Homo sapiens: one gene and its partners. The protein of the gene in region 3 purifies or fractionates together with the protein of the main gene of each other region. This does not show direct contact. Each region holds a gene or a part of one and is shown on either strand. Other genes may lie near its edges. The genes, in order: ASPH, TMEM245, FAM241A, MACO1, RTN2, REEP5 and ARL6IP5.

Region 1 (3,500 bases), on a different chromosome or scaffold from region 3:
CATTCATATCCCATTAGAAATAGCCACTATAGATGATGAACTTGGTAGGGTCTCAAATCTTAAATCATCATATAAATATGATTCATATTTATAAACACTCCTAATTTTCTTCAATTGTGATTCACTATCTATCATGACACTGTAAACTCCTTGAAAGGAGGGACCCTATGTTACTCATAATTGAATTCCAGGCCCTAAAACCATCTAGAACATAGAAAGTCCTCCATATCCACCAACTCAATTACGATGTATTTCTTCATCGTTCTTGCTTTACACATAAAGTTATACCCAACTGACTTCTCTCTTTCTACATAATCATCTTTGAGGATAATGGAATAAAAAGGATATATTATTGGTTCTATTACTTCTTAGCCATACATTCTTGGGCAGCTTATTTATAATGTCAGAACCTTATTTCTGTCCTCTGGGAAGCAGGGAAAATAAAATCTACTTCATGGAGTTCAACACAATAGTCTATGCAATGCTTGGACACAAGAGGAGGGAGGTACAGGCCTAAACTGAATCAGATGCTGCTGATGCCACAAATTTGCCAGAACTGTTTTCTCCATACTGCCTTTAAGCCTGGAACACAGTGCTTCTTAACCTTCCCCAAGGTGACAAATCAGTCATCTTTGAGAGTGGGATTAACCTGTAGAAGCAGCTAGAGCAATTTAACTCCGGCTAAAGTAGTTGTTCATGCATATTTTAGTCAAAAGAGACACAACTATAAAGTACTGAGATTGGTTTTCTTGAATGACTGTAACTGCCTCCTAAGGCAACTTGTAAAGAGTTTAAGAAATTATTTAGGCAATGGCAGAAGCCGTGGAATGGGTAAACAGTCTCCCCAAGTGAATTCTTTGAACGCTACCGTTCATCTGGATGTTTTAAGTTGCAAAGTTTATAGTTTAAAGCATAATGTTCCACATCTTGTAGTCAAACTATAGGTATATTTTAAAACAAGAAGGTGGCTTAAGGTTAGAAAGCATTTGCAGGCCGGGCGCAGTGGCTCATGCCTGTAGTCCTAGCACTTTGGGAGGCCAAGGCGGGAGGATCACCTGAGATCGGGAGTTTGAGATAAACCCTAAAATACTAAAAATACAAAATTAGCTAAGCGTGGTGGCACATGCCTGTAATCCCAGCTACTCAGGAGGCTGAGGCAAGAGAATCGCTTGTACCCAGGAGGCGGAGGTTGTAGTGGGCCAAGATTGTGCCACTGCACTGCAGCCTGGGCAACAAGAGCGAAACTCCATCTCAAAAAAAAAAAGAAAAAAAAAAAAAAGAAAGCATTTGCAAACCTTGTTCCTCATAGACTTGGTATGTTACATCATCTGAAAAAAAAAAGAGAATAAAAGCAAAATAAGTATTAACTGAGTCATTCTATACAATTGTTCAGTTAAAACAAAATACTACTTAATCGTAAACACAGAACTCTACTCCTTCAAATATTAATGTCTGCTCAGTCAATAATAAATGCCTCTGCCCAAAAGCAATTAAAAGGCAGGTAAATTATTTTCATTAAAATTTCTCAAATTGGCACAGAGGAATTTGATACACAAAAACAGCATTAAAATTTGACATCCTGTTTTGTTATGGAATGGTTAGTTGATGAGGTGAAATATGAAAGCCTGATATTCTTATAACAGTCTAACTTTGTTATAAAACAAAATCTCATGCATTAGATGTCGAAATTACTTCTTTGATGCCTTTAAAAGAAAAATCACCATGTAAACACAGCATGTGATTGAAAAATCTAAGGTAATATTTTAAATCTAATGAAAATGCTCATCTAATACCTGTATCATGGTGCAATCTTTCATCTTCTACTACTGGTTCACTGGAATCTAAAAAACAAAAACACACCTTTGCCAAACAGGAAAAAACCAAACACATTGCCAGACAGCATTCTAGGAGATTCATAAATTAATTATCTTCACAACTTTGCCAGATAGATGTTTTCATTATCATTTAATAAAATTTAAGCTGAATAACGTTCCACAATTTGATGCCTAAGTCAAAAAGATAGGAAAGAGTAGAAATGGGATTTGTACCCAGAATGACTTTATAGTACATCATACTGCCCCTTCAATTTTCAAATATTCTTTCCAGCACCTTACCTACAAAGACCAAAGTCTCAACAGTGGTTTGAAAAATACGTCTCCTTTTTCTCTCATCCCTCTATGTAGTATTAAACTATATTCAGACATTTCTATAAACATCTGACCAATCAAAAGTGATTATAAATACCATACAGGGATCTCTGTGTTGAATCACAATTGTTAACCCTGGAATAAAACGGCCTTGGCCACTGCCTCAATCAGAAAACACATATCAATAATTTTAACATTTACAAACCTGGATTTTCCTGCTCAGACATCATCTCTTCCATATCCTGATTACAGTCTTGTGAAACTATAAATTATGGAATAATTAGGAAATTACGTCTCAAATAAGGAATACATGTAATATTCGAAACCAGAAAGACACAATTTCTAGTTATGATTGAAATGCAAAATCAAGTCATAATGATATTCAAACATGTTCACTCCTGAAACAAATAGGTATTAAGTGTGTTAAATGCCAAATGCAAAGATGAGTAAGGGGGGCCTGTCATCAACTGGTTTACACTCAAACCGCAAAACAGTAAAGTGCTGACAGATGATGCGCCCACCTCCTGTGGCCATGCCCTTTAAGGGCGCTGGCATGTGACAAAACATGATTTAGACCTTTCGTTGACTCTGTAATTGAAAGGTACAAAACATGCAATTCAATTGTATCTTTTGAACTAGTAATCCTACTGAAAATTTATCCTCAGGAACTAGGCATCAAAACACAAAAAAGTATATTCACAAAGAAATACCATAAATATAAGACGTAATAAAATTATTAATTGCATATCTTGCATATATTAATTTAAATATATCATTAATAATAGATATTATGTATTTTATGATGCCCTTTTAAAGGAAGACTCACTCTAATTAAGAACAGAATTAAATTAAAATCTCACCTGTCTCTTCCACGTGGTAACTATGCTCGGTTTCTGGAAAAAAAAAAATTAGATTGATATTTACTGCTTTTACAAAATGGTATGTATATATCCCGTATATGTACTCTGAATCTATGCTTATCATTAATTTTATTTAAAAAATTAAAAAATGGGACTATCAATTAAAAGTCTGCTTAACACTTTTATATTTCACTAGAAGTACACTGTGGGATGTCTCACACATTCTCCTTCTCAGTCCACTCATCCCCACAAGGCTGACAACCACCACCCCCTGGACTAAAGAGAGAGGACAACTTAGAGTGACACAGGCCAGACCAGGAAAGCCGTTCATTTCTAATCCACTTCACAACCCACTAGAATGTGCTATCTCCTCGACCTGTCCTACCATTTTCTAGAGCGAAAGTACAGCAACTATGGATGGGAACAGAGAAAAACAGCTGAAGAGGCTTTATACCCTTAGGGAGCTGAAGGGTAAATGTGTTGAACACTTAAC
Region 2 (3,500 bases), on a different chromosome or scaffold from region 3:
ATAAGTTTGGAAAAATATGCCCTCTTATCTGTAACTGTGGCTCATTGATTTAATGCCTGGAATAAAATTCACACTTGAATAGGTTTGCTCAGAGGCTAAACATATATAAAGTTGACTTGTTAACCTCATGTTTCCGTGTTAGTGAAGATTTAAGAATTAAAAAACTCCTAAGAGGTCCTAGACTAGAAATTGTGTGTGAAACATGCATGTACAAATCCTTATTTTTGTTATTTTAAAGGATATTTAGTGATTCAAAATGTTGACCCAAGTAAAATATGCTTGTTACATTTGAAAAAACATAAGCAGAACAGAAGTTTGTATGGTAAAAGTGAATTATCCCTTTCCTTCCCCCGCCCTGCCCCTGGCCCCGCTGAGATGGAGCCTTGCTCTGTCACTCAGGCTGGAGTGCAGTGGCTCGATCTTGGCTCACTGCAACCTCTGCCTCCCGGGTTCAAGCAATTCTCCTGCCTCAGCCTCCCGAGTGGCTGGGACTACAGGCATCTGCCACCATGCCCAGCTAATTTTTGTATTTTTAGTAGAGACGGGGTTTCACCATGTTGGCTAGGCTAGTCTTGAACTCCTGACCTCATGATCTGCCCATCTTGGTCTCCCAAAGTGCTGGGATTACAGGCATGAGCCACCGCGCCCGGCCGAATTATCCCTTTTCTCTACCACTATTCCCACTATTCAGATGTTACTATTAACTGCTTGATGTAAAGGCTCCTAAATTCATTTCTTTGTCCATGTGAACATATAAAGTAGAAGGTTTTTGTTTTTTGTTTTTTAAAACAAAGATGAGATAACATACATATAGCTCTGTACCTTGCTCTTTTCATTTATCATTGTACTGTGGCCATCTTTCCTTATTAGCACTTAGAGATATACGTCTTTCTTTTTTTTTTTTTTGAGATGGAGTTTTGCTCTTGCTGCCCAGGCTGGAGTGCAATGGTGCAATCTCGGCTCACTGTAACCTCCACCTCCTGGGTTCAAGCGATTCTCCTGCCTCAGCCTCCCAAGTAGCTGGGATTACAGGCACATGCTACCATACCTGGTTAATTTTTGTATTTTTAGTAGAGAAGGGGTTTCACCACATTGGCCAGGCTGGTCTCGAACTCCTGACTTCATGTGATCTGCCCGCCTCAGCCTCCCAAAGTGCAAGGATTACAGGTGTGAGCCACTGCCCTGGCCACTTTTTTCTTTTTAATACTGCTACAGTATAAATCTTTTTTCTCCCCCTCCCCCACCATGCCTTTTAGAAAATGTTTTCAACAGATTTTCTTAGCTCTGAATTTGTATTAGAATACTTTGATAAACATTTTTAACCATTGGTAATTGTATAATCATAATGGGCTTAATATAAACTCTAAAGTGTTTTTATAAATGGCCTTACCTCTTGAACTAATATTACTTCTGCGAATCTTTTCTGAGGAAACACTTCAAAATACTGGAAAAAATCCAGAAGCCAAAAGAATTTCCTAAAGGTTAAAAATACTTCTTTTTCTGTTTATAAAGATACTACATAACCTTAGTAGAAAATTGAGCACCTGTAATAAAACATAAAGAAGCAGATTACTCCTTGAAATCTGCCATCTAGAGATAATATTTTAAAACATTTTTTGTTGAGTATATTTTCACCATTATAAATTTACACACGAATAAATTGACACTGTAGCACTGTATATTGATGTTCATCATACTGTTGAAAGTCTGACTAATTACTCAATTTTTGGAGATAGCATTATTTAAACAGTTCACTATAAAATGATATTTAAGTTCTCAATTTTTTATATTGTAAATGGCAAGTGAATATTTTTATATGTGTCTGCACAGTGTGCTTCTGTAAAACACTCCTAAAAGTAGAATTGGGGAGTATATTTTAAAATGGTTATTTTAAACTGGAATGAGGTAATCTGTGAGTTTCAGGTTGATAGATGAAAATACATGCTTCTTGTTAGACAATAAATTTCTCTTAAAAAATCTGAAGTATGCAGTCTCTTATTTTTTCTCTCCTTGCAAATGATACTAATTCCTTATGCATACAGATAAGAAACAAAAACTTCTTGGAGGTACTGTATAAATTGTGACCTCCAGTTCAGCTTCTTACTAAGGGTAGTACTTACTTTGTCATCTCTGTTCAACGTTTGCTCAAACACTTTTAGTAATGATTATTCCATTTGTAGATAGCTATAGTTTATTGGAAAAACCTGTCCTTTTACTGAGCTGTGTTATTTCCTAATTCCCACGTATTTCTGCTCTCAGAACCACAGAAAATCAAGTCTTATGCCTCTCCCAGATGACATTTTAAAAATTATTTGAAGATAGCTACAAAATCTTGATATTTCCTTCTCTTTTCTGAGCAAAACTTTTTTTTTCTTTTTCCCCTAGCTACATTTATATTATCATGTTGTGATTTCTATTTCCTTTCCCAGGCTGAATTTTGTTGTGTGGTTTGGTAGCGCAAAATTAATTGAAACAATCACTTTCCCTGATACGAGTATTGTACTTTTAGAAATAAGTGCTTCTACTAGTCATAGGCTGACTCATACTGAACTGAAAAGTGGTTCAGATGTTCTCTTTCCATTCCATACTTGTACAGTTGAGTTTTGAATCTCGAAGCAGAACTTTGCATTTCTTTTCATATAGTTTAATCTTGTTTGGATTAGCCCATTGTTCTGGCTTCAGGATATCTTTTTGAATCATGATAGATTATCTCAATATTTATTGACAACTCAGTTTTGTATAACTGATTTGTGTAAAATCAGTTTTTTCTGTTATTGTGCCTCTAGTCTTTCATCTAAGTGACTGACGTAATGTTTAATAGGGTGGGGCTAACTGACGTACCTCTGAAGACTATCCATTTACTGTGGATTTTTTTTTAATTTCAACAAGTTGTAGTTGTCTAAATTGACTGTTTTTATTTTCCCTTGTGAAAATCTGAGCAGCTTTTGCTTATCTTTAGTATTCTAGCACCATGCTTCTTTCTCCTTAAGATTAGAAAAGTGCACTCTGGAGCCAGATTCCTGGGTTCTAATCCTGCCTCTGTCATTTATTGGCTGTGGCCTTGGGCAAGTCACTTCTCTGAAATCTGGGTTTCTTTCATGTGTAAAATGAGGATCATAATAATATTATTTTGTGGGGTTATGAGGATCAAATGAGTTAGTATACATAAAGCATTAGAATAGGGCCTGGCACATAGGAGTGTTATATAAGTGTACTATTATTGTACTCAGATTTTTTTCTATGCTCTGCAATCAGATCTCAAATTCTTTGAATTCCCAGGGTTAATTGGTCTGGTCCAGCAAGACTGGACTTTTTGAAGCAGCTGTAGTCTCACTTCCCATGTCCTCATATTTTTGAGCTTCAAAGCTCTTTAATATTTCATCTGATAGAGTTACTTGAAGAAATATTTTAATGTCCTTTTTATTATAAAAGAATTAGTGCTTATTAAAGGCAGTCTGGAAAATACAGAAAAAAGTGAAAGGAAAAACAAAATTTTACCA
Region 3 (3,500 bases):
ACTACACCATCTAAAGTAGGGCAGAAAATTTGTCAGACTGTTTTTCCATCATGTAATGTGCTTTTTGTATTTGTGAAACAAACAAACAAACAAAAAACACTAGCTTTGGTGTTCGGAAACCTGGGTTCTAGTCTGCTCTAGCATGAGTTAGCTGTAGGACCTACAGCAAATAACGTGGCCTAGGGAACAACTATTGGCTTCTCATATTTTACCAAGAGTTTAAATATACACTTCTAAGAAAATAGTTAAACAACTTCATATGTATATATTACTGATACTATGTTGAAGGGCAAGTGTGGTGAATACAGTATATTGACTTGCTTATTCTCCATTCCCTTGCCAAAATGTGGTCCATGGGCACAGCATCAGCATCACTTAGGAGTTTGTAGAGATGCAAAATCTCAGACCTCACTCCAAACCAACTGAATCAAAATCTGCATTTAATAAGAGATGATTCCTATGCACACTGAAGTTGAGGAATACTTGTGTCAGTTTCCATTGCTATAAAAAAATCAGACACAGACAATATAGCACTGGATAATTTATAAAGAAGAGAGGTTTATTTGGCTCATGGTTCTGCAGGCTGTACACGAAACATAGTGCTGGCATCTCCTTCTGGTAAGGGCCTTAGGAAGCTTACAATCATGGCAGAAGGTGAAGGGAGAGCAGGCAGTGTCACATGGCAAGAGGGAGGGAGGGAAGGAGAGAGAGGGAGAGAGGTCCCAGATTCTTTTAAACAACCAGATCTTGTGTGAACTAAGTGGGCGACAATTTACTTGTCACCAAAGGCATAGCACTAAGCCGTTTATGAGGGATCTACCCCCATGATCAAAACACCTCCCACCAGATCCCACCTCCAACACTGTAGATCACATTTCAGTATGAGATTTGGAGGCAACAAACGCCCAAACTATATTAATGCTGTTCTGCTTTTCGCCTCAGGTGGTTTTCTAATTGCAGAGGCTGGAAAACTTAAAATTGCCTTTCTCAGATTTCGTTTCAGTTAGGACTTTGGTCCAAAATTAGGCCTAACAGCTAACACTCACATGCTAGATAGCTATGTGCCAGAGACTGCTCTAAGTACATCTCATATATTATTAATTCATATAATCCTTCCAATAATCCTATGAAGTTGTTACAATTATTCCCATTATGCAGATGCAGAAACTGCAGCCCAGAGAGGTTAGTTACTTGCCTAAAGTTACAGTCAATAAAAGGCAAACCCAGGTAACCCTGATCTAGAATCTGTACTGTTAATCATATTTCTACTGATAGATCAAAAGGCATGGACCCCCCTCACTGAACCCCCCATTTTGTTTTCTTTTTTACAGATCATCTCATGGAACACACTTTGGCAAATGCTGTTACAGAAGTTCCTTCATTTATTTACTTACATTTATCTATGAGCCAGCATTGTTCTGAAAGTTCTAGGCATTGCCAAAGGCAAGAAATAGAAATGAGACATTATCATTTGAAAGGAAGCAAAATTATTTTTATCTATAAACTGGATAATTATATACCTAGAAGATGCAAATGAATCAAGTCTAAGAGCTACTAGTATTTATTAGTACCAGTATAAAAATTTAGAAAGATGGCCAGTTAAAAATGAAATACATAAAAGCCAATAGCTAGAAACCACCAACAAAATATGATATGGAAAAAATCCTTTTCATAATACCAACAAAAATATAAAAACTTAATACAGACTTTAATATAATCCTTAATACTATAAAAGATTATAAAGCAAGGCAGAAAGTACATTATTCAATGATTAGGACAAAAAAAGATCAGCTCCATACTTCATACAATATAGAAAATCATTCTAAAGAGATTAAATATATAGAGTAAAAAATTAAACCATAAATGCACACATACAAAAGAAAACATAGGCAAATATTTAACTGATTGTAAGATTAGAAAAAATTTCTTAATATGTATAGAAAGAGATACGTGTATACATGTGAGTGGTGTGTGTATATACGAAATTACCAAAAAAATTCCTTTAATAAAAATTCAAAGCATTATCAAATTTTAAAAAACATAAATAAAATTATAAAGTAAATAGCAAGCAGAGAAAATATTTACAGCCAATGTGAAAATAAGGGATTAATATCCTTATAATGCCAAAAGAAAAAAAATGACTAAAAAGAAATACAAATGCCTAATAAATATATGAATGGTTTAGTAAACCTCTCCAGCAACAGCTTACAATATGATAGAAGTTTCACCTATGAAATTGGCAATGATTATAAACTATATTGTTCATTGCTGGCATGGATGGTTTCCAACTGGCCTTTTTACACACCAGTGCTGCAAGTGTAAATGAGTACAACCTTTCTTGAATTAAATTCTTTAGGATGTTTCAAGAGGCTTCAAAGAGTTTGACTCATTGACCTAGTTCTTCTACTTCTAGGAATCTATACCAGGGTAGAAGTTTAAGGATTTACAAGCAAATATTTTCAGACAGCACGATTTATAAAAGAAAGCTTGAAGCAACTTCAATGTGCGGTGTTAGGGGAATGAATTATTTGGCAGCCCTAAAGAGAGTTTTCACATAGAATTTCCATAACATGGGAAAATGACACAACCTTTTGTAAAAGAAGACACAAAATTATATTTATATTAAAACATATTAAAAATACATGTGTGGCTGGGCACAGAGGCTCAGACCTGTAATCCCAGTACTTCGGGAGGCTGAGACGGGAGGATTGCTTGAGGCTAGTAGTTTGAGATTAGCCTGGGCAACATAGCAAAACCCTATCTCAAAAAAAAAGTGTGTATATATGCATATACACATAGACAAATGAATATACTGTAGTAATACCAAGTTTCATATTTGATATCAAAATATTTGATATCAAAATCCCAAAATAGAGTGGGATTTCAAAGGCTTTTTTCTTCTTTAGATCTTTCTATAGTTCTAATTTTCCAAAGCACACATTACTTTTATAATCATAAAGACGTTAAAGCTAGAGTTAATAATTCGAAAGTCAATCTAAGGATAATGGGACTTCCCTATTCTCTAGGTAAGAGGGTCATGTTAGGTTATTTCAGATTGTGAGTGACCTGTACATTGTGCCACATCTAAGCAGATGCTATTGACATTTAAGGCATATAATAATGGACTAGAGATGTTTAGCCTTTCAGCTATGCATCAGGGCACAGAAACTCTTACATAAAGCCACCTGGCATTCACCCTCATGAACATACTTGGATCATCTCTCATACACACAATTACCAACACATATATGGAATAGCTGTGTCCTGTCCCTTCAGTTTCTTGGACATTCCCTGAAATTGCTTCTTTCCCTTGCTTATCTCTCTTTAGACACCTGATCCTATTTCAAACCTGGCACAGTTTCTTCATCTACAGGACTTGATTCATTCTCCCAAGGCCTCCTTTCTTAAGTGACTTGATTTTAACCAGGCATCCTTTGTCAATCGCCCTACCTGGAAAGACTCAGGCCAGAATGACAGAAGAACCTTCATTTTTTGCTCAA
Region 4 (3,500 bases), on a different chromosome or scaffold from region 3:
ACAGCGGTGGTTCTCAAAGTATCTTCTAGTAAGCCAGACACTAAAGAGCTATGCAAAAATGTAAAACCACACCAGTCTTCTCATGAATTTATTAATTTATTGTTACTTTTCTTTTTTTTTTTTTTTTTTGAGATGGAGTCTCACTCTGTCGCCCAGGCTGGAGTGCAATGGCGCAATCTTGGCTCACTGCAACCTCTACCTCCCAGTTCAAGTGATTCTCCCACCTCAGCCTCTCAAGTAGCTGGGATTACAGGTGCCTACCACCATGCCTGGCTAATTTTTGTATTTTTAGTAGAGATGGGGTTTCACCATGTTGACCAGGCTGGTCTCGAACTCCTGACCTCAGGTGATCCGCCTGCCTTGGCCTCACAAAGTGCTGGGATTACAGGCGTGAGCCACTGTGCTCAGCAATTTATTGGTACTTTTAAGTGAACTAATGTTTTAAATTTTTCTATTTTAACTTTTTTCTTTCTTCTTTTTTTTTTTTTTTTCCCAGAACTGGGGTCTTCCTTTGTTGCCCAGGCTGAAGTGCAGTGGTACAATCATAGTTCACTGCAGCCTCAACCTCAACCTGGGCTCAAGTGATCCTCCTATCTCAGCCTCCAGAGTAATTAGGACTACGGGCACATACCACCATGCTTGGCTAATTTTTTTTTTTTTTTTTTTGTAGAGATGGGATGTTGCTATGTTGCCCAGATTGGTCAACATAGCAAGATCCTGGGCTCAAGTGATCCTCCTACCTTGACCTCCCAAAGTGTTGGGACTACAGGCATGAGCCACCACATCCAGCCAGTTTTAATTTCTAATACAGTAAATATTGATAGATATAATCCATATAAACCAAATCTCTGTGATATTCTCAATCTTTTTTTTTTTTTTTGAGACAGAGTTTCGCTTGTTGCCCAGGCTAGAATGCAATGGTACGATCTCGGCTCACCGCAATCTCTGCCTCCTGGGTTCAAGTGATTCTCCTGCCTCAGCCTCCCAAGTAGCTGGGATTACAGGCATGCGCCACCATGCCCAGCTAATTTTTCATTTTTAGTAGAGACGGGGTTTCTCCAAGTTGGTCAGGCTGGTCTCAAACTCCTGACCTCAAGTGATCCACCTGTCTCAGCCTCCCAAAGTGCTGGGATTACAGGTGTGAGCCACAGTGTCCAGCCTCAATCATTTTTAAGAGTGTAAAGAGATCCAGAGACAAAAAAATTTTTTGACAAAAAAAAAAAAAACAGAAATTTGTGTGTGAGCCTTAACATAAAATAAACTGGAACCACTGCTGCATTCTGCAGGCACCTCCTTGTATAAAATCCAAAAAAGGGGAGCAGGCTGAGAAGACCAAGCTGTTCTATATTTCTTTTTTCTATTCTAGGCCTCCTGCATACTGCAAAGGGAACCTTTCTAGTGTCAATTACACACACACACACGCGCGCGTACATGTGCAGCCACTGCAATGACAAATCTAACAGTGTGAAATATGCCCTTTTTTGTTTGTTTATTTTTTTCAGAGACAGAGTCTTACTCTGTCTCCTAGGCTGTAGCGCAGTGGTGTGATCATAACTCACTGCAACCTCCAACTCCTGAGCTCAAGCGATCCTCCCACCTCAGCCTCCCAAGTAGCAAGGGTGACAGGCAAGAGCCACCATGCCTGGCTATTTTTTTTCTTTAAAAATAAATAAATAAATAAATAGGGTATCTTATGCCTTTCACTAAGGTGTAAGTACTTTGTACTATTTTTGTGACTTTTCTGTTTAATTAAATCTAAAATTATTTCAAAATGAGAAGTTAAAAAGAAGCAACACATACTTGTTATTAAAAAGGTAATATAATGTATAATATAAAAGCCCTTAGTAGTCCTGCCCCAAGATGATTGCTGTTATATAATTCATAAATATAATTTGCTTTTTCTATATAAACAAATGTGTTTCTTTCTTAACAAAAACAGGTTTCTGTTTGACATGTCCACTTCTTTTTTTTTTAGTTTTTTATTTTATTTTATTTTTCTTGAGACAGTCTCACTCTGTTGCCTAGGCTGGAGTGCAGTGGCACAATCTCGACTCACTGCAACCTCTGCCTCCTGGGTTCAAGCAGTTCTCCCAAGTCTCCCAAGTAGCTGGGATTACAGGCGCATGCTACCACGCCCAGCTAATTTTTATATTTTTAGTAGAGACGGGGTTTCGCCACGTTGGCCAGGCTGGTCTTGAACTCCTGACCTCAGGTGATCCACCCGCCTCGACCTCCCAAAGTGCTGGGATTACAGGCGTGAGCCACGGGGCCCAGTCATGTCCACTTCTTTATATAGAATTTCCCTTATCCATTTTAGCAGCAACATAGAGTTCCACATAGAATTTACACTGTTCTCTGCAGTCTCCTAACTTCTGTTTCTGTACTCTTTCAATAGTGCCTTGCAGCTTTTTAGTTCTCTATTCCTCAGGTTTGTTTCCTATAAAATGGCAATACCTACTCTGCCTATTTCACACTTGTGAGGATAAAATGAGATAATATGAAAACATTTGGAAAAGTTACAAGTAAGACAGAAATGTAAGGTGTGATTAAGCAGATTATTACTATCAATTATATGAAGCATAATTTTGATTCCCTTATGAAATGAATTTCTAATGTTTATATAATGTTAACAGGTTTTTTTAGAGCCTGTGAGTTGTTTTCTCTCTCCGCCTATGCTTCTTCACCCCTCCCCTTCCTCAACCCCATAGACTCCACACTGTTAAAAGTATTCTTGAAACAGAAATTCTAAAACTCACCACCTGCATTAGGTTACAATACCTGTCCTTGATATCTCTGTGGTCTATACAGACCTTTATAAAAATGTTATACTACAAAACCGTGAAAACCTTTTTTAGCGATTTCCATTCTAGATTTTTTTTTTCCTTTAAATTGGGGGCTGATTATGGTGGCTCACGCCTATAATATCAGCACTTTGGGATTATATTAACCACCACGCCCAGCCAATTCTCTTTTTTTGACACAGGGTCTTGCTCTATTGCCCAGGCTGGAGTGTAGTGACACGATCATGGCACACTGCAGCCTCAAACTCCTGGGCTCACGTGATCCTCCCGCCTCAGCCTCCCAAGTAGCTGGGACTACAGGAATGTGACACCACACCCAGCTAATTTTTTTGAATTTTAGTAGAGATGAGGTCTCGCTATGTTACCTAGGCTAGTCTTGAACTCCTGGACTCAAGCAATCCTCTTGCCTTAGCCTCCCAAAGTGCTGGGGTTACAGCCATCACACCCGGCCAAAAATTCTTATTACATCTGAGCAAGACGACTCAAGCCTCAGACAGTATCTCTCTTTTCTGAGACAGGAATCCTTACTTTGGACATGAACATAGTATTCATTCTCTTTAATGTTCAACTATTCTTGCTACAAGATAGGCAAAGTACTGATTTTAGTACTCAGCTATTTATTTGGTTTTTAAAAGTGTTGGGTGGGTGCGGTGGCTCATGCCTATAATCCCAGTACTTTGAGAGGTCAAGGTGAGTGGC
Region 5 (3,500 bases), on a different chromosome or scaffold from region 3:
TGTGTGTGTGTGTGTGTGTGTGTTTTGTTTTTGTTTTTATTTTTTTTGAGACGGATTCTCGCTCTATTGCCTAGGCTGGAGTGCAATGGCACAATCTTGGCTCACTGCAACCTCCGCTTCCTGGGTTCAAGCAATTCTCCTGCCTCAGCCTCCTGAGTAGCTGAGATTACAGGAGGGCTCCACCACACCCGGCTAATTTTTTATATTTTGGTAGAGATGGGGTTTCACCATGTTGGCCAGGCTGGTCTCGAACTCCTGACCTCAAGTAATCCTCCCACCTCGGCCTCCCAAAGTGTTGGGATTACAAGCGTGAGACACCACGCCTGACCTTGGTTTGTTTGTTTGTTTTTTTTTTTGAGACAGAGTTTCGCTCTTGTTGCCCAGGCTGGAGTGCAATTGTGCAATCTCGGCTCACTGCAACCTCCACCTCCCGGGTTCAAGCGATTCTCCTGCCTCAGCCTCCCGAGTAGCTGGGATTACAGGCATGTGCCATCATGCCTGGCTAATTTTTTGTTATTTTTAGTTAGAGATGGGGTTTCACCGTGTTAGCCAGGATGGTCTTGATCTCCTGACCTCAGGTGATCCACCCACCTTGGCCTCCAAAAGTGCTGGGATTACAGGCGTGAGCCACCACGCCCGGCCACATTTTTTTTTTTTTTATTTTTAGAGGCAGAGTCTCACTCTGTCACCCTGGCTGGAGTGCAGTGGCGTGATCATGGCTCACTACAGCCTCTACCTCCCAGAGTCAAGCAAACCTCCTACCTCGGCCTCCTAGCAGCTGGGACTACAGGTGGCACCACGATATCGTGCTAATTTTTTTTTTTTTTTTTTTGGACAAAGTCTTCCTCTGTCACCCAGGCTGGAGTACAGTGGCATGATCTCAGCTCACTGCAGCCTCTGCCTCCCGAGTTCAAGAGATTCTTGTGCCTCAGCCTCCCAACTAGCTGGGATCACAGGCATGAGCTGCCATGCCTGGCCTGGCTAATTTTTTTTTTTTTTTTTGAGGCAGAATCTCGCTCTGTTGCCCAAGCTGGAGTGCAGTGGCGCGATCTCAGCTCACTGCAAGCTCTGCCTCCCGGGTTCACGCCATTCTCCTGCCTCAGCCTCCCGAGTAGCTGGGACTACAGGCGCCCGTCACCATGCCCGGCTAATTTTTTGTATTTTAGTAGAGACGGGGTTTCACCATGTTAGCCAGGATGGTCTCGATCTCCTGACCTTGTGATCTGCCCACCTCGACCTCCTAAACCTGGCTAATTTTTAAATGTTTTGTAGAGATAGGGTCTCGCTATGTTGCCCAGGTTGAATTCCTGGCTTCAAGTGATCCTCCCACCTCGGCCTCCCAAAGTGTTGGGATTACAGGCATGAGCCACCGCGCTCGGTCATATATATTTTTTTAATGTCATAAATTTTGAAACACTGCTTACTAGTAAGACCATAACAGTTCTTATTTCCACAAGAAGCAAGAGAAAGATCTTTTCCCAGCATCCTGCCCTGCAGTGGGTTGCAGTTCTTTTTAACTTTTGCCAATCTGTCAGGTGTAAAGTGATATCCCCTTGATACCCTTAGCAACACATGTTTCTAAGTCCTAAATGTATTAATCACGCCATACTCCTTTCCAGGGCCTAACTCAAATTTCTGACCCCTTTCTGAGACCCTAAAACACACCTCCTAAACCCAACCTCAGCCCTGACCAGTGACCTTTGTACCCCAACCTTCATCTCATCTGTCTAAACTTTAGGCTCACTCCTGTAATCACAACACTTTGGGAGGCCGAGGCGGGAGGATCACCTGAGGCCTGGACAACATAGTGAGACCCTGTCTCTACAAACAAAATAAGAAAATTAGCAGGGCGTGGTGGCCTGTGGCTCTAGTCCCAACTACTTGGGAGGCTGAGGTGGGAGGATCACTTGTGCCCAGGTGTTGGAGGCTGCAGTGAGCTATGATCCCACCACTGCACTCCAGAAAGGGCGACAGAGGGAGACTCTGTGGCTTAAAAAGAAAAAGAAACTTTAGTAATCTGCTTTCCTTTGAGTCCTGAAAACCAGGAACTCAGTACCTTTCTATTTCTTTCCAGATCCTCTCTATCCTCCCACACTCCCTCCAACTGACCCCTCCGACCGGTCCCTCTTAGAGGCTCACCCCTCACTTCCGTCTCCTTCCAATGCATCTCCTCTCATTTACCTCCAAATAGGGCAGCCCCTCCCTCCCCATAGCAGGGCCCTCCCAGGCAGGCTCCTAGTGGCCGGCGCCGGTGGATGGGGGAGGGGCCAGGTCGCCTGAGGCGGGGGCTAAGTTTAGGCACGCTGGGGGGAGGGGGCCTCCCCGCAGCTGTTCTGGCCCGTCTGGCCCCTGAGTGACAGCGCTGCCTGGGGCCGAGGCTGGGGGAGGGGGTCCTCCCTGCTCCTGGGCCCCAAAGTGCTGGCTCGAAGGAGAAGGGACCCCATGCTCCCTCTGGGTCCTCCCTATACTGCCCCTCGGCCCCCTAGCCCCAGCCTGCAGCGCTGCGGAAGCAGATCAGTAATAAAAATGCTCCGGATGTGCAGGAGATAAGGGCGAGTTTGGACCCCGTTCCGCCGACCTCAGCCCCCGTCCAGCCCGTTCCGCAAGCCCACCTTTACTCCCCATATCGGCTCCGAGTGAGAGGCTGGGGACACCGCTGCTTCTCGGGGATTTTGCCCACTTCAGTAGAACCCGGAGGACAGGAGTAGGGGGGGTGGGGCCCCTTTGGACCCAGCCAATGGCTGTCCACAGAGGTGGGGACAATTCCAAAATTGGAACCGTCTTGTAAACAGCCAAAAGCAATGATGTCTTTAACCATTCCATAGCTGTTCCTGGAGGCGGAGCATATTTTAAAGTAAGGCTGGGTCATTTTACAACTGGCCAATAGATGTGGTCAGGAAAAAGAGGGTTTTTGTTTGTTTTTTCAAATAGAGATCGAGTCTCCCTATGTTGCCCAGGCTGGTCTTGCACTCTTGGCTTCAAAGGATCCTCCCGCCTCGGCCTCCCAAAGTGTTTAGGATTACAGGCATGAGCCACTGCGCCCGGCCAAAAAGAAGAGTTTTTAAAAGGCACAGAGTTTACTTATAAATATTCTACGGCCACATCTAAATAAGGAGAGAACTGTATTTTTTCAGGGATTTGGCCTGTCCAAAATCAGCCACTAGGAGGAGCACTCCAGAAGAGGGAGGATTATTTTATTTTATTTTTATTTTTTGAGACGGAGTCTCGCTCTGTCGCCCAGGCTGGAGTGCAGTGGCGCGATCTTGGCTCACTGCAACCTCTGCCTTCCAGGTTCAAGCGATTCTCCTGCCTCAGCCTCCCGAGTACAGACGGGGTTTCACCATGTTGGCCAGGCTGATCTCGAACTCCTCACCTCAAGTGATCCGCCCGCCTCGGCCTCCCAAAGGGCTGGGATTACAGGCATGAGCCACCGCGCCCGGCCGGGGAAATTTTTTTAAAAAGCGGAGTTTATCACGTCTAGCCAGATGTGATATCACGTC
Region 6 (3,500 bases), on a different chromosome or scaffold from region 3:
ACTCACACCTAAGACACATAGGTACATACTATGTGTTCTGTGCATGGTTCATAAGTAACTCAGTTGCTACAATTCAAACTAGCCAAATGACATAAAATTAAGTAATAGTATGTCTTCACAGCATTGGCTTTATTATTCAAACCAGTTGTACCAATATCAACTATTTACCAGAGACTGACAGTGTGGAAAAAAAAGCAGTTCATTAAAATATATCTATATATCCATTTATACCCATATATATTTTAATTTTATCCATATATATGGATAAAAAGCTTTAAGATGTCCTATTGGTAAAGAACAGAAAGGAATCATCTTCTGGTCCATCTGCTTTATATTTTATTTCTAATGTGGTAACTTATGTTTAATAGCAAATATTCCAGAGGTTAAGATAGGTTCTTTGGAAATTGAATATGAAGAACATGGACCATAATGTTTATAATCCTTTTTGTTATGGCAGACACATAACTTGACCATCCTCCATGCCCACCATGCATGGGATTGCTTTTGGCTGTATTTATCAGAGAGTATGATGTAGGAATTCTTAGTAATTCAAAATGGTTTTCCTATTATCAGTACCTCAAATAAGAAGGAAAAAAGAATCAGACATTTTAAGACATAAACACTAGTTCGTTTCCATGCCAATAAGGAAAATATTTTTCTCCTTCATAGAAAAAAAGAAGGCAGGAAACTATGCGTGATCAGAAAGTTACATATCTTTTTCACTGCAGAGTATATGTGCTTTTAAAGCAAGAGAGAAAACCAACAAACAGTACGAGAAAGACTAATGAAAGACTGACCGGGCACAGTGGCTCATGTCTGTAATCCCAACACTTTGGGAGGCCAAGGCAGATGGATCACCTAAGGTCATGAGTTCAAGACCAGCCTGGCCAACATGGTGAAACCCCATCTCTATTAAAAACACAAAAAATTGGTGGCAGATGCCTGTAATCCCAGCTACTTGGGAGGCTGAGGCAGGAGAATCGCTTGAACCCGGGAGGTGGAGGCTGCAGTGAGCTGATTGCGCCACTGCACTCCAGCCTGGGCAACAAGAGGGAAACTCCATCAAGAAAGAAAGACAGAAAGAAAGAAAGACAGACAGACAGAAAGGAAAAGAAAGAAAAGAAAGAAAGAAAGGAAAGAAAGAAGAAAGAAAGAGAAAGAAAGAGAAAGAAAGAAAAAAAGAAAAGAAAAGAAAAAAGATTACAGAGGCAGTGGAGTGAGAATAGCTAGAGCCTGGGAGGTCAAGGCTGCAGTGAGTCATGATTGCACCACTGCACTGCAGCCTGGGTGACAGAGTATGACCCTGGCTAAAAAAAAAAAAAAAAAAAAAAAAAAATTAAGATGAGTCTATAGAATACCTATAATGAAGTATAAAGAAAAAAATGCAGTCATTCAGTGGTCAAATCTTTTGGTGTTTAATTACAGTGATCTCATTTACCACTATCCACCATTTTGTTTTTAAATGCAAAATGGAAGAGTCAGTCACAGTCAAATATAACAATGCGGAATGTGGACAGACATCCCTACACTTAAGACTGAATTGGTCCCAACACACCTGTGACCTATGTCAATTAACTTCAGTTTGTGGCCTTGATTTCCACATCTGTTACAGGTGGCTATCACCCTAGCAGCTTAGTCTCTAAGACCCCTTTTAGCTAACATTTTATAACTCAAAACTGAATGTGTGTGTGTTTGTGTGTGTGTGTGTGTGCACCCAGGAGTTTGAGACCAGCCTGGGCAACATGGCAAAACCCCATCTCTACAAAAAATACAAAAAATTAGTACACACCTGTAGTCCCAGCTACTCCAGAAGCTGAAGTGGGAGAATCACCTGAGCTTGAGAAAGTCAAGGCTGCAGTGAGCTGTGTTCATGCCATTGCACTCAGCCTGGGTGACAGAGTGAGACCCTGTCTCAAAAAAAACACACTCAAAAAAACCAGGCTGGAGTGCAGTGGCGCAATCTCGGCTCATTGCAACCTGTGCCTCCTGGGTTCAAGCAATTCTCCTTCCTCAGCCTCCCAAGTGTGTGTGTGTTTTTTTGAGACAGGGTCTCACTCTGTCACTCAGGCTGAGTGCAGTGGCATCAACACAGCTCACCACAGCCTTGACTTTCTCAAGCTCAGGTGATTCTCCCACTTCAGCTTCTGGAGTAGCTGGGACTACAGGCGTGTACTAATTTTTTGTATTTTTTGTAGAGATGGGGTTTTGCCATGTTGTCCAGGCTGGTCTCAAACTCAAGCAATCCACCCATCTCAGCCTCCCTGCCTGTCCCCCCAAAAAAACTGTTTGAATGATTGATGGTAAAAAAGATTAATGCCAGGAGCAATAAAAGAGCAGATGCAAATCCCACTGGGACAACCCTTTGTCAATAAAACCAGTGGTTCTATAAGTATCTGTGTCAGATTGGTATCATAAAGTTTAACTTAATCTCAAGTAACCTCACAACTTAGAAGGGGAACAACCTAAGCTGCCTTTTCCTAGGTAAAGGAGGGCCACCTTAGATGCGGACCGCAGTCTAGACAAGTGAGCGATCCCTTAACTAGATCACTTGGTCTATCAGAGGCTGCAGGATATATATAGTAGACACATGACTCAGAGTGACTGATAAGCTCCACTCCCTGGAATCAGGAAAGTGTGCAAGTGACAGAATGAAGTCAGGGTACGTTTCTACAGCCCCCACTTATATTTCAGCTGCTACAAAAAGTAATTTCATTCACAATTTTGAAATTGTTTTAAAACTTCTGCCATATTAATTCATACTTCCCCAAAATTAATTGTTAATGTTATGAATCACCACTAAATACCTTAACATGTTATATTTGTATTTATACTTGTTTTAAATGCCATGTGAAAAAATTAAGTTGAAAACTGAGTCCTCATTCAAAGTCAGTCCTGAAAAAGAGAAGTCCAGGTCAGAAGGAGATGAGGGAGGCTACGACAGAAAGAAGGACAAATAGACTAAATCTCCAGGGCCTTCATAAAGAGAAAAAAAAAAGCTCATAAGGAACATTCCAGAATAGAGTATTAGAAATGAGATCCTCCTCCACAACTGCTTTAGAGCCCAGAAACTCTGATCATGAATAAATAATTTAAATCATTCATCTTATTTGCTTTTTAAAACTTTATTTTCTTTATGACACAGGCAAGCGGGCGAACCTTAACTGAAACGCTGGCTGTCATTATTTTACAAAATAGTCACAAGTTGTTATAAGGATATTTTTATTACTTTTTCATTTCTCCACAACACTTTCATCTTAAAAGAGTCCAGCACTCTTAGCAGTAATGTTAAGTGAAACAAGGACAGTAAAAAAGTTGAGGAAGGTTAAATGTTTAAATGCTTAAGATTTCAGATTTAAATTAAGTAAATTAAAGATTTAAATGTTTAAGTAAATTGCTTAAGTCACAGTTTGCAGAATGCCTGTTATATTTTTTATCCAAGTGCACATCGGCCAGAAGGCCACATTGGCTTGTGCTTCATACTACCCCAGAAGGCAAAGCGC
Region 7 (3,500 bases), on a different chromosome or scaffold from region 3:
CCTGTCTCTACTAAAAATACAAAAAATTAGTTGGGCTCGGTGGCGGGAGCCTGTAATCTCAGCTACTCGGAGGCTGAGGCAGGAGAATTGCTTGAACCTGGGAGGCGGAGGTTGTAGTGAGCCGAGATGGTGCCATTGCACTCCAGCCTGGGCAACAAGAGCAAAACTATGTCTCAAAAAAAAAAAAAAAAAAAAAGCCAGGTATGGTGGCAGGCACCTGTAGTCCCAGTTACTTGGTAGGCTGAGGCAGGAGAATCACTTGAACCCGGGAGGCAGAGGGTGCAGTGAGCCGAGATTGCGCCACTGCACTCCAGCCTGGGTGACAGAGTGAGACTCTGTTTCCAAAAAAAAAAGAAATAGAAATTTCTATAATTAGTATATTATTTCATAATCAGAAATAAAATGAATATATAAAAAAGGAAATACAAAAACATAAAAGCAGCTGCTCTCCAACCCACAACCGCCGCTTGGCACAGACCAACCACAAAAGTCCATCTCTACTTGTCCCATCTCGCCAACAACATTAATGGAATTTCAGTTCATGAACCACAGCGAAGCTGTTCCTTCTCCAATCCAAATCCTGGTTTTCTGCTCATCCTCCAGATCCTCTTGTGCCAGTCTATAGCACCCCAGTGCCCCAACCTTCCCCAATACCCAGCACATGTGCTATTCTCTCTGCCCTCTTCCCCTCCCTCTTGGTTCTGTGTTACCTGGGTCTACTTGGCCTCTCTGCACTTTCTTTCTGTTTTATTTTATCTGGATTATGCCCTGTCTTCTGAGACAACCCCGGAATTGGTCTGGGAAAGAAAAAATTCCCTTATACGCCTGAGGAAGGAAAGAATCTGATGAATCAAAACCACAATCCCCTTCAGCAGGTTGTAGAGAGTGGAGAGTGAATGAAGAGGCCTTGAAACTCTTATAGATTAATATTATCTAATTCCCAGCATCACAAAAGATTCTAAGCCAGTGTGGTAGCTCATGTCTGTAATCCCAGCACTCTGGGAAGCCGAGGTGGCGGATGCATCGCTTGAGCCCAGGAGTTTGAGGCCATCCTAGGCAACATGGCGAAACCCCATCTCTCCAAAAAAAAAAAAAAACACCCCACAAAAATTAGCCAGGTGTGGCAGCACACACCTATAGTCCCCACTACTTGGAAAGCTGAGGTAGGAGGATCATCTGAGCTCAGAGGTCAAGGCTGCAGGGAGCTGTGATGGTGCCACTATACTCTAGCCTGGGTAACAGAGTGAGATCCTGTCTCAATTAAAAAATAAAAAGATACTTAGAGAAACTGAAAAATTATACCAAAGACTACAGTATAGTAGGATAAGGGGAGTTTATTTCCATTTGCTTATTTTTATTTTCATATTTTTTTCAATGGCCATGTATTCCTTGATGAATAAAAAAAATTGGTATTTAAAAATGAACAAATGAAATTGGGGAAAGGCTCCTGAATGTAAAAAACCCTTTACAAAGCCTTGACTTTGACCTATAACCTACCCAAATGTTTCTTCTGAGCCGTAAAGAAAAACAAAGATCGCCAGGTACAGTGGCTCACACCTGTAATCCCAGCACTTTGGGAGGCTGAGGCAGGTGGATCACAAGGTCAGGAGATCAAGACCATCCTGGTCAACATGGTGAAACCCCGTCTCTACTAAAAGTACAAAACTAAGCCTGGCTTGGTGGCATGTGCCTGTAATCCCAACTACTTGGGAGGCTGAGGCAGGAGAATTGCTTGAACCCGGGAGGCGGAGGCTGCAGTGAGCCGAGATTGTGCCACTGCACTCCAGCCTGGGTGACAGAGCGAGATTCCGTCTCAAAAAAAAAAAAAAAAAAAAAAAAGCAAAGCAAAACAAAGATCAAATCAACACAAAGAACTCAAATGGAGGATTGAAATTCAAGGAAATTCCTTTGCATACCCTGCAAGTAGGAGTGGGTTGGCTGGCAGCAAAGCATCAAAGGGCTCCTACTCAGTTCATTCTGGAATACTTATTAAAATAATAATTCATGAAGTGAAGCATATAACAAAATTCATGTCAAGCTGTTTTTATTTTCCTCTAGACAAGTAAAATACATATTTAGGTTGAGTGCCTAAAGTCCAGGACAAGGAACAATGAAAAATCCAGGCCTAACTCAAGCAATTCCAAATTTGTTTCACCTGTTCTGGTTGCTCATGTCCAAGAGAAAAGAACAGAGCCTGAAGTTCTATAGAACTGGTTTTAGTTCATAACCTGCCCAACAACAGTCTATAATTAGAAAGCAAGCAAGTTTCCAAGCTGGAAAAAAACTAACGAAGTTACTCTGAGCAGAAATTATTTTCTTCTGTATCTGATAAAATGTATACCACTCCAATGCCCTGGCACTTACCTGTATTTGGAACAAAAGACAGACAGACAGACAGACAGACACACACACACACACCCTCTACAGATTAACAGAAATTCTCAGAAATCTGGGAACCAGTTCTTGCCTGAGATGCTTTTTAGTCAACAGTTGGGCTGTTTATCACAGCAATCACGACAAACCCCAAAGACTTTTAGGACAAAACTTTCCATAAACATGCCACCCATCTTTCATGTAGACAGCTGCCTCTGTGGTCTGCTGGGTGGAGTTTCACTTACTGATAGTCCTAGAGTAAGAAAGAGGGCTGGGTGCGGTGGATCATAACTGTAATCCCAGAACTTTGGGAGGCTGAGGTGGGTGGATCAGCTGAAGCTAGGAGTTTGAGACCAGCCTGGCCAACATGGCGAAACCCCATCTCTACTAAAAACATAAAAATTAGCTGGGCGTGGTGGCGCATGCCTGTAATCCCAGCTGTTCAGGAGGCTGAGACACGAGAATCACTTGAACCTGGGAGGTGGAGGTTGAAGTGAGCTGAGATTGTGCCACTCCAGCGTGGGTGACAGAGCCAGACTCCGTCTCAAAAAAAAAAAAAAGAACGAGGGATGGTGAGAAAGAAGGGAGAAACAGCAGGACCTAGTTTTGCAACTCAAAAACCGTTATGTTTTTCTATTGTGAAATTAAAAATATATTAATACATATGTTTGTATATATTTTAATTATATATATTTAAAATATGAACATGTATTACCCAATTCCAATAAATAATTAATAAATCTTTCCCTATAATAGTTACACATTCTAGAGCAGTCATTTATGGTTATAAAAAGGTTTAGAATCCCATCACAGAAATTTTGTAGCAGTCTTCAAAGATGAATCAGTCTAGTCCAATTATACAGATAACTAAACTGAGGCCCAGAGAAGAAACATATCCAAAGGGATCCAGGAGAGAAACAAGAAAACAAGGGTGCCAGTTGTGGCAGCAACTCACAGTAGAACCCATTCTGTCATGTTAACCGGCTTTAAGGATTTCCCCCACACTCTAAGTAACCTACTATAACCAAGGATCATCCTGGAAAATCCCTCTGCACTCTCATTTCTCTCTGAAACAAGGTGGCTATTAGTGGGTGTGGATACAGGTCCTAAACTTCCCAACGTGATTC

What was found.
Region 1: the proteins of FAM241A (region 3) and ASPH purify together in Homo sapiens (affinity purification with mass spectrometry; one large-scale study listed by BioGRID and IntAct). This does not show direct contact.
Region 2: the proteins of FAM241A (region 3) and TMEM245 purify together in Homo sapiens (co-immunoprecipitation; 2 studies listed by BioGRID and IntAct, with this or other methods). This does not show direct contact.
Region 4: the proteins of FAM241A (region 3) and MACO1 purify together in Homo sapiens (affinity purification with mass spectrometry; one large-scale study listed by BioGRID and IntAct). This does not show direct contact.
Region 5: the proteins of FAM241A (region 3) and RTN2 purify together in Homo sapiens (affinity purification with mass spectrometry; one large-scale study listed by BioGRID and IntAct). This does not show direct contact.
Region 6: the proteins of FAM241A (region 3) and REEP5 purify together in Homo sapiens (co-immunoprecipitation; 3 studies listed by BioGRID and IntAct, with this or other methods). This does not show direct contact.
Region 7: the proteins of FAM241A (region 3) and ARL6IP5 purify together in Homo sapiens (co-immunoprecipitation; 2 studies listed by BioGRID and IntAct, with this or other methods). This does not show direct contact.

The regions. Positions count from the first base shown.
Region 1 is NC_000008.11:61,641,593-61,645,092, forward strand, and holds part of ASPH (aspartyl/asparaginyl beta-hydroxylase), read right to left. Parts: intron 3,041-3,500; coding exon 3,008-3,040; intron 2,410-3,007; coding exon 2,353-2,409; intron 1,842-2,352; coding exon 1,794-1,841; intron 1,329-1,793; coding exon 1,296-1,328; intron 1-1,295.
Region 2 is NC_000009.12:109,109,948-109,113,447, reverse strand, and holds part of TMEM245 (transmembrane protein 245), read left to right. Parts: intron 1-3,500.
Region 3 is NC_000004.12:112,148,454-112,151,953, reverse strand, and holds part of FAM241A (uncharacterized protein FAM241A), read right to left. Parts: intron 1-3,500.
Region 4 is NC_000001.11:25,437,397-25,440,896, reverse strand, and holds part of MACO1 (macoilin), read right to left. Parts: intron 1-3,500. UniProt on the Homo sapiens protein: Plays a role in the regulation of neuronal activity.
Region 5 is NC_000019.10:45,490,548-45,494,047, forward strand, and holds part of RTN2 (reticulon-2), read right to left. Parts: intron 2,832-3,500; coding exon 2,613-2,831; intron 1-2,612. UniProt on the Homo sapiens protein: Inhibits amyloid precursor protein processing, probably by blocking BACE1 activity. Enhances trafficking of the glutamate transporter SLC1A1/EAAC1 from the endoplasmic reticulum to the cell surface.
Region 6 is NC_000005.10:112,912,228-112,915,727, forward strand, and holds part of REEP5 (receptor expression-enhancing protein 5), read right to left. Parts: intron 1-3,500. UniProt on the Homo sapiens protein: Plays an essential role in heart function and development by regulating the organization and function of the sarcoplasmic reticulum in cardiomyocytes.
Region 7 is NC_000003.12:69,094,937-69,098,436, reverse strand, and holds part of ARL6IP5 (PRA1 family protein 3), read right to left. Parts: intron 1-3,500. UniProt on the Homo sapiens protein: Regulates intracellular concentrations of taurine and glutamate. Negatively modulates SLC1A1/EAAC1 glutamate transport activity by decreasing its affinity for glutamate in a PKC activity-dependent manner.